Linked DNA regions of Homo sapiens: region 1 is linked to region 2. The links come from fine-mapping of genetic effects on gene expression. A gene starts in region 2. The other region holds a variant in brackets. All regions are shown on one strand. Distances are between the middles of the regions. Region 1 overlaps NAA25 (N-alpha-acetyltransferase 25, NatB auxiliary subunit). Region 2 holds the start of ATXN2-AS (ATXN2 antisense RNA).

The links. PIP is the estimated chance that this variant, and not a neighbour inherited with it, causes the effect. A credible set is the group of variants that fine-mapping cannot tell apart.
Region 1: its variant is the best candidate, but not a certain one, in a credible set for the expression of ATXN2-AS in caudate (GTEx, PIP 0.67).

What each region holds. Positions count from the first base shown.
Region 1 is chr12:112,084,526-112,089,894 of GRCh38, reverse strand. NAA25 (N-alpha-acetyltransferase 25, NatB auxiliary subunit) reads left to right here. Exons shown (of 24, transcript NM_024953.4): 4 at 2,094-2,212. Among named protein-coding and RNA genes, the nearest start is that of NAA25, 22 kb to the left of the region's middle. The variant G/CCTG (reference allele first, on the strand shown) is at 2,979.
Region 2 is chr12:111,596,782-111,602,150 of GRCh38, reverse strand. ATXN2-AS (ATXN2 antisense RNA) reads right to left here and starts at 2,653. Exons shown (of 2, transcript NR_146497.1): 1 at 2,598-2,653; 2 at 1,896-2,323. It overlaps ATXN2 (ataxin 2), which reads left to right and starts at 2,836. Exons shown (of 25, transcript NM_001372574.1): 1 at 2,836-3,367. The coding sequence starts at 3,117. RefSeq lists an enhancer at 2,102-2,331 and silencers at 2,792-3,101, 3,162-3,331, 3,422-3,471, 4,062-4,191.

The DNA of each region.
Region 1 (5,369 bases), 490 kb before region 2:
CGGCTTCCCAGGTAGCTGGGATTACAGGCATGCACCACCATCCCCAGCTAATTTTTGTATTTTTAGTAGAGACGGGTTTCACCATGTTGGCCGGGCTGGTCTCAAACTCCTTACCTCAAGTGATCCACTTGCCTTGGCCTCCCAAAGAGCTGGGATTACAGCCGTGAGCCAAGTGCACCTGGCCTCCTCAATCAATCTTAATTCTCCTTTTACCTACCAAGAGTTACTCGCTATCCTGAATATTTTTTATTCTCTTGCTTCCCTTTAAATGTTTATTACATTTATTTCTCTTAGTAATACATTATTAGTTTTGCTTAATTTTAAACTTTTGTTAGTGCATCTGTACTATGTATATTCTATGACTTGCATTTTTCATCTAATAGCCAAGTGGCTATAGTTAATCCATTTTCACTACCACAAAATATTTCACTGGGTTACATTACAATATCTAGGAGTAGAATTTTCAAGTCATGGGGTAAGTGTATGTTTAGCTTAAAGCAAGATAATGTCAACTTCTTTTATAAATAGAATAGCAGTTTTTGAGTTCTGATTGCTTACATGCTTGTCAACACTTGGTATTCTTTCTCTCTTCATTCATTCAAATAGCTCAGATTGTAACATTTGGTATTTGTAACCTTAATCATTTTTGCCAATTTCTTTTGAGACAGGATTTTGCTGTGTTGTCCAGGCTAGTTTGGACTCTTAGGCTCAAGCAATCCGCCTGCCTCAGCCTCCCAAAGTGCTGGGATTATAGGCACGAGGCACTGTGCTCAGCTTCAATTTTGTTTTTAATTTTTACAAAAGATAAAACCTAAGAGTTGAGGTATTATATCTGAGTATTTACAGATTGTGTTGATTTAGGGATATGGATTCTTCTCCAGTGTTTTAAAAAAAATCATTTACTCCACAAATATTGGTGGCATGTTTCTCTATGACTGGTATTCTATCAGAGTCAAAGATAAAAAATGCACTTTCAGCCGGGCGCAGTGGCTCACGCCTGTAATCCCAGCACTTTGGGAGGCTGAGGTGGGTGGATTACCTGAGGTCGGGAGTTCGAGACTAGCCTGACCAACATGGAGAAACCCCATCTCTACTAAAAATGCAAAATTAGCCGGGTGTGGTGATGCATGCCTGTAATCCCAGTTACTTGGGAGGCTGAGGCAGGAGAATCACTCGAACCCAGGAGGCAGAGGTTTCAGTGAGCCGAGATCGCACCATTGCAATCCAGCCTGGGTAACGAGCAAAACTCTGTCTCCAAAAAAAAAAAAAAAGCACTTTCTGTTGTCATGGCACTCATTGTCTATAAGGGGAAATAGATCACTAGACAGTATACTACATTATGTGTTAATAAATGCTATAGTACAGCCTGGGCAACATGGCGAAACACTGTCTATATAAAAAATAAGCCAGTTGTGGTGGTATGTGCCTGCAGAACAGCTACTTGGGAGGCTGAGGTCGGAGAATTACCTGAGCTTGAAAGGTCGAGGCTGCAGTGAGCCGTGATTGTGCCATTGCACTCCAGCCTGGGCGACAGAGTGAGAACCTATCTCCAAAAAAAAAAAAAAAAAAAAAAAAAACTACAATATACTTACTTATATAAGATTCCAAGATGGCAGAGGGAGGCAGTGGTCAAATTGCAGTGGAGAAGCAGAGATGGTGTTCAGAGAAAGTCTTACAGTTCAGCTTACATTTGAATTGGGTCTTGGCTGATGTTCACTAAGATAAAAGAGAGAAAAGGAGAATTCAGGCAGAGCGAAGAGTTTAGAGGCATAGAGTTATGTATGATACATCCCAGAGAATCTGGTGGAACTACAAATAGTTTGTGGCTACATGATAAAGTGCTGAGGGAAAGAGGAGACAGAGGCCAGATCCTATAAGGTCTTATATGTTGTAAATGCTATGAGAAGGCTTGACCTATTCCATGCTTCATTTAAACACCACCTAACCAAGAGATGAATGATGATTGGATGAGGCAAAGCAGATACTTCTTCTATAATGATAGGAGACATCTATTTCTGCCAAATAGGAAGAACATTAAATGCCATTAGAATGTTCTTGAAGTATAACTTAAATCTTATTTCTCTTTATCTTAGCGGAGTTAGTTACAAAACTTTATGAGGCAGCTGTGAAGAAAGTTCCCAATAGTGAGGAGTATCACTCTCACCTCTTCATGGCCTATGCCAGAGTGGGTGAATACAAGAAAATGCAACAGGTAATTTGATCCCCAAACCTACTGGGCTATGGGATTTACTATTAGAGGCAAAAGTCTCTTTCTTGTGATTTAACTGCACTGGGTATGTGTGTGTGTAGAATTGAATTTATGGATTTTTCTGTGTGGAGGTCAGTCAGTTGTTTTCCTTATGTGTTTAAAGTTGAACTATTATTCAAGATCTTTAAATGTTTTATTTGGAAATAAGTTGATTGTTCTTTTGTGGCCTGATGTTATGTTTTGTTTGGTTTTGGTAATTCAGCTTCAGATTGTCCTACTGCATCAGATTGCTGTTAAATTTTCAGAAAATGAGCAGATATACCAGAGCAAAAAATGAACAACTATGGAAAGAGTAACTTTAAAGTTTACATCTAATTTGTAAATTTAAACTGTTGATAGCCTGCTAAGATTTTTAAGTCCACCAGGGGGAAAATCCTTGTTGCCTGGGATGTTTCTTTTTAAATTTATTTTTTGTTTTTTGTTTTTTGGTTTGAGGCAGCTTATTTGGCAGCTACCATATTGTAGATATTCTTTACATACATCTGAAGGAGCCTCATTTGAACACATTTGAATTAGGTTGCGGGTAAAGCTAACATCTCAGAGAAATATAATCAGCATTATTAATTCCATAAATGGCTCTGATGTTAAGCTAGTATTTTTTTTTTTTTTTTTTTTTGGAGATGGAGTTTTGCTGTTGTTGCCCAGGCTGGAGTGCAATGGTGCGATCTTGGCTCACTGCAACCTCTGCCTCCTGGGTTCAAGCTATTCT[G/CCTG]CCTCAGCCTCCTGAGTAGTTGGGATTACATGCTTGCGCCACCACTCCTGGCTAATTTTGTATTTTTAATAGAGACAGGGTTTCTCCATGTTGGTCAGGCTGGTCTCAAACTCCCGACCTCAGGTGATCTGCCCGCCTCGGCCTCTCAAAGTGGTGGGATTACAGGCATGAGCCACCACACCCAGCCCAAGCTAGTACTTTTTTAGAAATGCTTTCTTTGTGGGTATAATATCTTCTGAAGGCAAAATTTTTTGGATTTTTATCTTATTCTTTACATTAAATATCAAGTTATAACAATAGATAATTTGGGCAGGGTGGCAGATACTATATTAATATAAACTCTTTCTTAAAATCAGTCTCTATATTTTAAGTTTATGCAAGTTTTAACATAGGAGAAGTTTTTTTCTTCTTTTTTCTTTTTTGTGATGGAGTCTTGCTCTGTTGCCCAGGCTGGAGTGCAGTGGCACGATCTCGGCTCACTGCAACCTGGCCTCCCAGGTTGAAGCGATTCTCCTGCCTCAGCCTCCCGAGTAGCTGGGATTACAGGTACACACCACCATACCTGGCTAATTTTTGTGTTTTTAGTAGAGGCGAGGTTTTACCATGTTGGCCAGGCTGGTCTCAAATTCCTCACCTCAAGTGATCCACCCACCTTGGGCTCCCAAAATGCTGGGATTACAGATGTGAGCCAGTGCGCCCAGCTGGAGAAATTTTTTGAGGGGTCCCAATGTAATTATTTAATAACATTTTGTTAATTTATTTACTGAAAGGTATTTAGACATTATAATTTTTAAAAATGTAAAATGGTTATGGGTGTGTGTGTGTGTGTGTGTGTGTGTGTGTATATATATATATATATATATATTTTTTTTTTTTTTTTTTTTTTTTTTTTTTTTTTTTTTGAGACAGTCTCACTCTGTCACCCAGGGTGGAATCCAGTGGTATGATCTCGTCTCACTGCAACCTCCACCTCCCGGGTTCAAGCGATTCTTCTGCCTCAGCCTCTCAAGTACTGGGACTACAGGCACATGTCACCACACCCGGCTAATTTTTGTATTTTTAGTAGAGACGGGGTTTCACCATGTTGGCCAGGCTGGTCTCGAACTCCTGACCTCATGATCCGCTCGCCTCTGCCTCCCAAAATGCTGGGATTACAGGCGTGAGCCACTGTGCCCAGCCATAAAATGGGTATATTTTTTAAAATTGGCAATGCTAACATATATACATATAAATCCTTAATATCATTTTTATTTGTAAGATTATGTTTTAAGCAAAGTATATTAAATATTCATTCATAAGGATAGAGTAAAAGAAGTTATAGTTCATCCCTATGGTACATAAAATACATTCCCACATCTCTCCAAATAATACTGGGTGTCTTTATATGGTTGACATATAAAGATGTTCCTAGTATATGTTAATTGAGACAAGCAGGTTGTAAAATGACCTTCTCTTCCCATTCTTCTCATGTTGTCCTCAAAAAAGATATACTTCTTTTCTTTCTTTTTTCTTTTTCTTTTTTTGAGATAGACAGACTCTCTCTGTCACCCAGGCTGGAGTGCTGTGGCGTGATCTCAGCTTACTGCAAACTCTGCCTCCCAGGTTCAAGAGATTCTCCTGCCTCTGCCTCCCGAGTAGCTGGGATTGCAGGTGCCTGCCACCACACTTGGCTAATTTTTTTGTGTGTGTGATATAGTCTTGCTCTGTCGCCCAGGCTGGAGTGCAGTGGTGTGATCTTGGCTCACTGCAACCTCCGCCTCCTGGGTTCAAGCGATTCTCCTGCCTCAGCCTCCTGAATAGCTGGGATTACAGGTGCACACCACCATGCCTAGCTAATTTTTATATTTTTAGTAGAGATGGGGTTTCACCATGTTGGTCAGGCTGGTCTCGAACTCCTCACCTCTTGACCCACCTGCCTCAGCCTCCCAAAGTGCTGGGATTACAGGCGTGAGCCACTGCACCCACCTAATTTTTGTATTTTTAATAGAGATGGGGTTTCACCATGTTGGCCGGGCTGGTCTCGAACTCCTGACCTCGAGTGATCTACCTGCCTCAGCCTCCCAAAATATTGGGATTACAGGCGTGAGCCACTGCACCTGGCTAATTTTTATTTATTTATTTATTTGATATGGAGTCTCGCTCTGTCTCCAGGCTGGAGTGCAGTGGTGTGATCTTGGCTCACTGCAACCTCCACCTCCCAGGTTCAAGAGGAGATCCTCCTGTCTCAGCCTCCCGAGTAGCTGGGACTACAGGCACGCGCCACTAAGCCCAGCTAATTTTTTGTATTTATAGTAGAGATGGGGTTTCACCATGCTGGCCAGGCTGGTCTCGATCTCTTGACCTCATGGTCCGCCCACCTTGGCCTCCCAAAGTGCTGGGATTACAGGCGTG
Region 2 (5,369 bases):
TAGTGAGTTAAAACAAACTTTCTCAGCTATGTCAGCTTCAGGCCTTCTTTTTTTTTAATTTTGAAAAATTTTTTATGGAGAGGAGGGTCTCACTATGTTGCCCAGGCTGGTCTCCTACTCCTTGGTTCAAAGGATCTGCCTGCCTTGGCCTTCCAAAGTGCTGGGATTATAGGTGTAGGCCACTGTATCCAGCCTAGGCCTTCTTATTCAACTTCCATCGACCTGAAACTTACTATTTTTTTTTTGAGACGGAGTCTCGCTCTGTCGCCCAGGCTGGAGTGCAGTGGTGTGATCTCCGCTCACTGCAAGCACCGCCTCCCAGGTTCACACCATTCTCCTGCCTCAGCCTCCCAAGTAGCTGGGACTACAGGTGCGCATCACCACACCCAGCTAATTTTTGTATTTTTAGTAGAGATGGGCTCTACTAAAAATTGGCCAGGCTGGTCTCGAACTCCTGACCTCAGGTGATCCACCGGCCACTGCCTCCCAAAGTGCTGGGATTACAGGCGTGAGCCACCACACTGGCCAAAACTTGTTCTTAAGATTGTATTCTGGGACCTTGATTCCAATCAGAGAAAAGTGATTGTATTTTTTTATTTTTATTTTTTTTAGATAAAGTTTCGCTCTTGTTGCCCAGGCTGGAGTGCAGTGGTGCCCTCTTTGGTCACTGTAACCTCCGCCTCCTGGGTTCAAGCGATTCTCCTGCCTCAGCATCCTGCGTAGCTGAGATCACAGATGCCCACCACCACGCCCAGCTAATTTTTTCGTATTTTTAGTAGCGATGGGGTTTCACCATGTTGGCCACGCTGGTCTTGAACTCCTGACCTCAGGTGATCCATCCGCCTCGGCCTCCCAGAGTGCTGGGATTACAGGTGTGAGCCACCGCGCCAGGCCAAGTGTTTGTATTTCTATTAAAGAAAGAATATAACGGGACACCATTGACGACCTGCTCCATTGCAGGCCTCCTTGCTGTTCCTCAGACTCCCCCCTCAGAGCCTTTGCCCTCGCTGTGCCCTCCACCTGGAGCGTTTCTCCCCAGGATCCTCATGCCCATGCTCATTTGGGTCCCTGCCCCATGTCACCCTCTCCAGGAGCTTCCCCTCACAGCAGCCCTGGCCTGTACCACAGCCGGGTACAGGTATTTTTTTGTTTCAACTGGTTTTTTAGTTCCAGTTTCCTTTAGGTTACTTTATTTATTTATTTATTTATTTATTTTTTGAGACGGAGTCTCGCTCTGTCGCCCAGGCTGGAGTGCATGATCTCGGCTGACTGCAACCTCCACCTCCCGGATTCAAGCAATTCTCCTGTATCAGCCTCCCGAGTAGCTGGGATTACAGGCGCCCACCACCACACCCGGCTAATTTTTATATTTTTGGTAGAGACGGGGTTTCACCATGTTGGCTAGGCTAGGTTAATTTTTAAAGGGTTTTGCAATGGTCCCTTGATCTACTTTTTACCTTAGATGGGAAATAAAACTGATTTCCTACATTGGCAGAATACAATGATCATTTTTGCCTGGACTATCTAGGAGGTTAATTTCAGTTGGACTACTGAAAACTGCTGGTTCAATCATTCTCCACGTTTATCTAAGTCTTTACCTTTATCTGGACAGTTCTAGGACATTGAGGGGAATTTTGGTGTTTCTTCCCCTATTATTTCCTGAAGTCATTTCACTTTAAAAAACAATAGATTCACTGCTCAAAAAAAAAAAAAAAAGTTACCTACTTTCTACTTGCTTCCAGTTTAACTGCAACACATTTTAAAAAGAGTCTACTGTGCTGGCTGGGTAAGTTAAATTAAAACTTCTAAAGGGTCCAAGGTCTAAAGTTCGCACATTGTTTTGAGGTCGGCTCTGTCTCTACCGAGGGAGATCCCATTATCCGTAGTTCTACCAGTCCCAATCCCATATATTTCCTTTAGAATCTCATGAATGAGGAAAAAGAAGTTCAAGTGAGGGAACATAGGTTCAAATGAAGGTCAGATACCTAAAAGAGTTTTCTGGTGACTGTGCGCGGCTGGGGTGGAAAAAGTGGGGAAAAGGTACCCAGATGTGGGTGGCCCCGGAGGGTTGCTCCACTCCAGCCCCGGCAGGGCAGGACAGCGCGGCCTGCCTGGTAGATGCCCCGAGCCACTGGAGCGCCTACTGTGTGGCGGGCGGGGGACGGCAGGAAAACGGCAGGATGCTGTGTCCCCTGAATCTGGCAGGGTTCTAGGTGCTTTACACGTAGCAAGACACATTCTCCGCCCCAAGGCACTCGCAGTCAGTCCATTTTCTGGGTTGCATCAGGTGGGGGCAAACTAGGTCCCCGCAGAAGTGAAGATGCTGAAGGAATACAGTAGGAGAAGAAATGCTTCTCTCCTGTCCTCCACACCAGGCAGGCCCCAGAGGCTGAGACCGACACGCCCTCCCCGAAGGGCAGACCCGCCTTGAGGAAGGCGGATCCGGGTAGGGACCGCCGCCTGGCCCTCACCCGACCCCCGAGAAAGCAACCCAGCGCGCCGCCCGCTCCTCACGTGTCCCTCCCGGCCCCGGGGCCACCTCACGTTCTGCTTCCGTCTGACCCCTCCGACTTCCGGTAAAGAGTCCCTATCCGCACCTCCGCTCCCACCCGGCGCCTCGGCGCGCCCGCCCTCCGATGCGCTCAGCGGCCGCAGCTCCTCGGAGTCCCGCGGTGGCCACCGAGTCTCGCCGCTTCGCCGCAGCCAGGTGGCCCGGGTGGCGCTCGCTCCAGCGGCCGGCGCGGCGGAGCGGGCGGGGCGGCGGTGGCGCGGCCCCGGGACCGTATCCCTCCGCCGCCCCTCCCCCGCCCGGCCCCGGCCCCCCTCCCTCCCGGCAGAGCTCGCCTCCCTCCGCCTCAGACTGTTTTGGTAGCAACGGCAACGGCGGCGGCGCGTTTCGGCCCGGCTCCCGGCGGCTCCTTGGTCTCGGCGGGCCTCCCCGCCCCTTCGTCGTCCTCCTTCTCCCCCTCGCCAGCCCGGGCGCCCCTCCGGCCGCGCCAACCCGCGCCTCCCCGCTCGGCGCCCGCGCGTCCCCGCCGCGTTCCGGCGTCTCCTTGGCGCGCCCGGCTCCCGGCTGTCCCCGCCCGGCGTGCGAGCCGGTGTATGGGCCCCTCACCATGTCGCTGAAGCCCCAGCAGCAGCAGCAGCAGCAGCAGCAGCAGCAGCAGCAGCAACAGCAGCAGCAGCAGCAGCAGCAGCAGCCGCCGCCCGCGGCTGCCAATGTCCGCAAGCCCGGCGGCAGCGGCCTTCTAGCGTCGCCCGCCGCCGCGCCTTCGCCGTCCTCGTCCTCGGTCTCCTCGTCCTCGGCCACGGCTCCCTCCTCGGTGGTCGCGGCGACCTCCGGCGGCGGGAGGCCCGGCCTGGGCAGGTGGGTGTCGGCACCCCAGCCCCCTCCGCTCCGGGCCCGGCGTCCCCTCCCCCGCGGCCCGCGCCGCCGTCCCCGCCCCGTGACCCGCCGGGCTACCCGGGGTGGGCTGGGGGCCGGCAGCGCGGGGGAGACTCGCTCGGGCCTGAGCCCCGAGGCTCGGCCGGTGGGCGCAGCCGGGGTCCTCTGGGATTGTCAGGCCTGTCCAGCCTCCCGCAGCATCCCCGCCCCCTCCCCCGGCGGTCAAGATGGAGGGAGCGGGCGGCCTCCCCTCCCCACGCGTGTTGGGAGGGGTTCTCGGGTAGCGGCGATGGTCAGCCCCGGCTCCCCCTTCCGCACGATCCTCCGCCCGCAGCGTGGGGATGCTCGGGCAGCTCCTCCACTCCCGGTTTAGGTGTGAACGTTGGAGGGGTCTGGAGGCTGTGGTGGCGTTTTCCGGAACATGTCCCCCTCCATGGGGGACATCTCTGGAGGGGAGAAGTTAGGGCCGCGTCCCCCGTGCCGGTTAAAGGGGTAGGCACCGGGCTCCTCCGGAATCATCAGGGTCTGTCGGGGCTCTCTCCCCGCCCCCTCCGAGTCCTGGGAAAGATCGGAGGACGGGGTGGAGACAAGTGGGCCTTGGCCCCCGCACCCCTCTGCGTTCGTGTCCGAGGCGGCGGCGGGGGCTCCCGAACTCCCCTGAAATCGTGGGGCTCCATGTGGCCTCCGGCAGCGTTCCACCCTCCCCCACCTGGGGAAGGGAAGGGGTGGGGAGTGCCCGGCCCCGTCCCGGCCTTCCTCCTTCCCCCGCCAGACCTCTCCGGCGCGCGGGTGGTGGCCGATCCGCATTGCTGTTCGAGGCCGCAGTGGAGAAGGCGCCTGTGGAACATCGGTGGGTGAGGGCTGGACCCAGGCTGGACCCTGGAGATCCGGGGTGGCGGTGCTGGTGGCAGGGGGCGGGCACCCTGCGCACTTATCCCAACCCCCGCCCCAATTTCGGAAATGCTAGGAGAGAGAGATTGCAGCAGGGGACGTGGTCGGGTTCCTGAAGGCAGAAAGGCGGGTGTTTACTAGCGTCTTTTTCCCTCCTAAGCCGGGGTTGTAGTAGGGGCTGGGGGCTCAGTGTTGTCCCGGCTAACTGGGTTTGACTCGAGGGTGTGTTTGTGCAGGAGGGCCTGTTGGGGGTGGCGGGCGGTTGTCAGTTCGTATTTCACGAACTAAGAAAATGCTTAGTGTTCAAAGGGAGAAGGAAACGTCAATAGACTCCATTCCATTGTGGCCGGTGTCCTTAACTTCGGGAGTGCCGCCAGAGCTTACCAAGGGCACGCAAGTCCATTTCCCTTGTGCCTCAAGTCCATCCGTGTTGTAGGCACTACTGTGCCTTCTTTAGGCCTAGGCCGCCGGCTTGACGGCGGGTGACCGGCGTCCTCCTTAAATAGGCATCTTGGGCTTTGGAAGGTGGAATAAGAGGATTTTTCATTCACCCGAGTTTTCTTTTTGAAAACACATTTTCAGCAACCCATTTCCAAAGAATTTTTATTTACAGCAGAAATTCCCCATCAAGAGGAATCAGCTGGTTTTTAAGGAATTCTGCTGCCTTCAAAGGGGGCGGAAACAGTCGGTTATTTGACTTTACACGCCCCGCCCCCCCTTCCCCTTCTCTGAGTCTGAAGCATCCCAAACACTACTTAGCCAAACTAGTTCAGATGAAGTGATCGTTTCCCCAAGTAGGGTAACTTCAGTTTCCCTTTTTCGTTGGCATCTAGCGAAAAATGAAAAAATTTAAAATACAACTTTTATAGAAAAGGATGTATTCTGTTTTTACTTTCTTAGGTATTAGGAAGAGATTTGGCAGATAATTCAACATGTTCAAATATATAAACATTAAAACTAAGGTTATTAAGTTGCATTGACTACTAGGCTTAAAAATTAGATTATAAGAGAATTTGCTCCTGAGTAGTTTGAGTGATCAAAGATATTTGGAATGTTTTAGTACCACAAGGTCTTTTTTCTGTTCCTTGAGGCT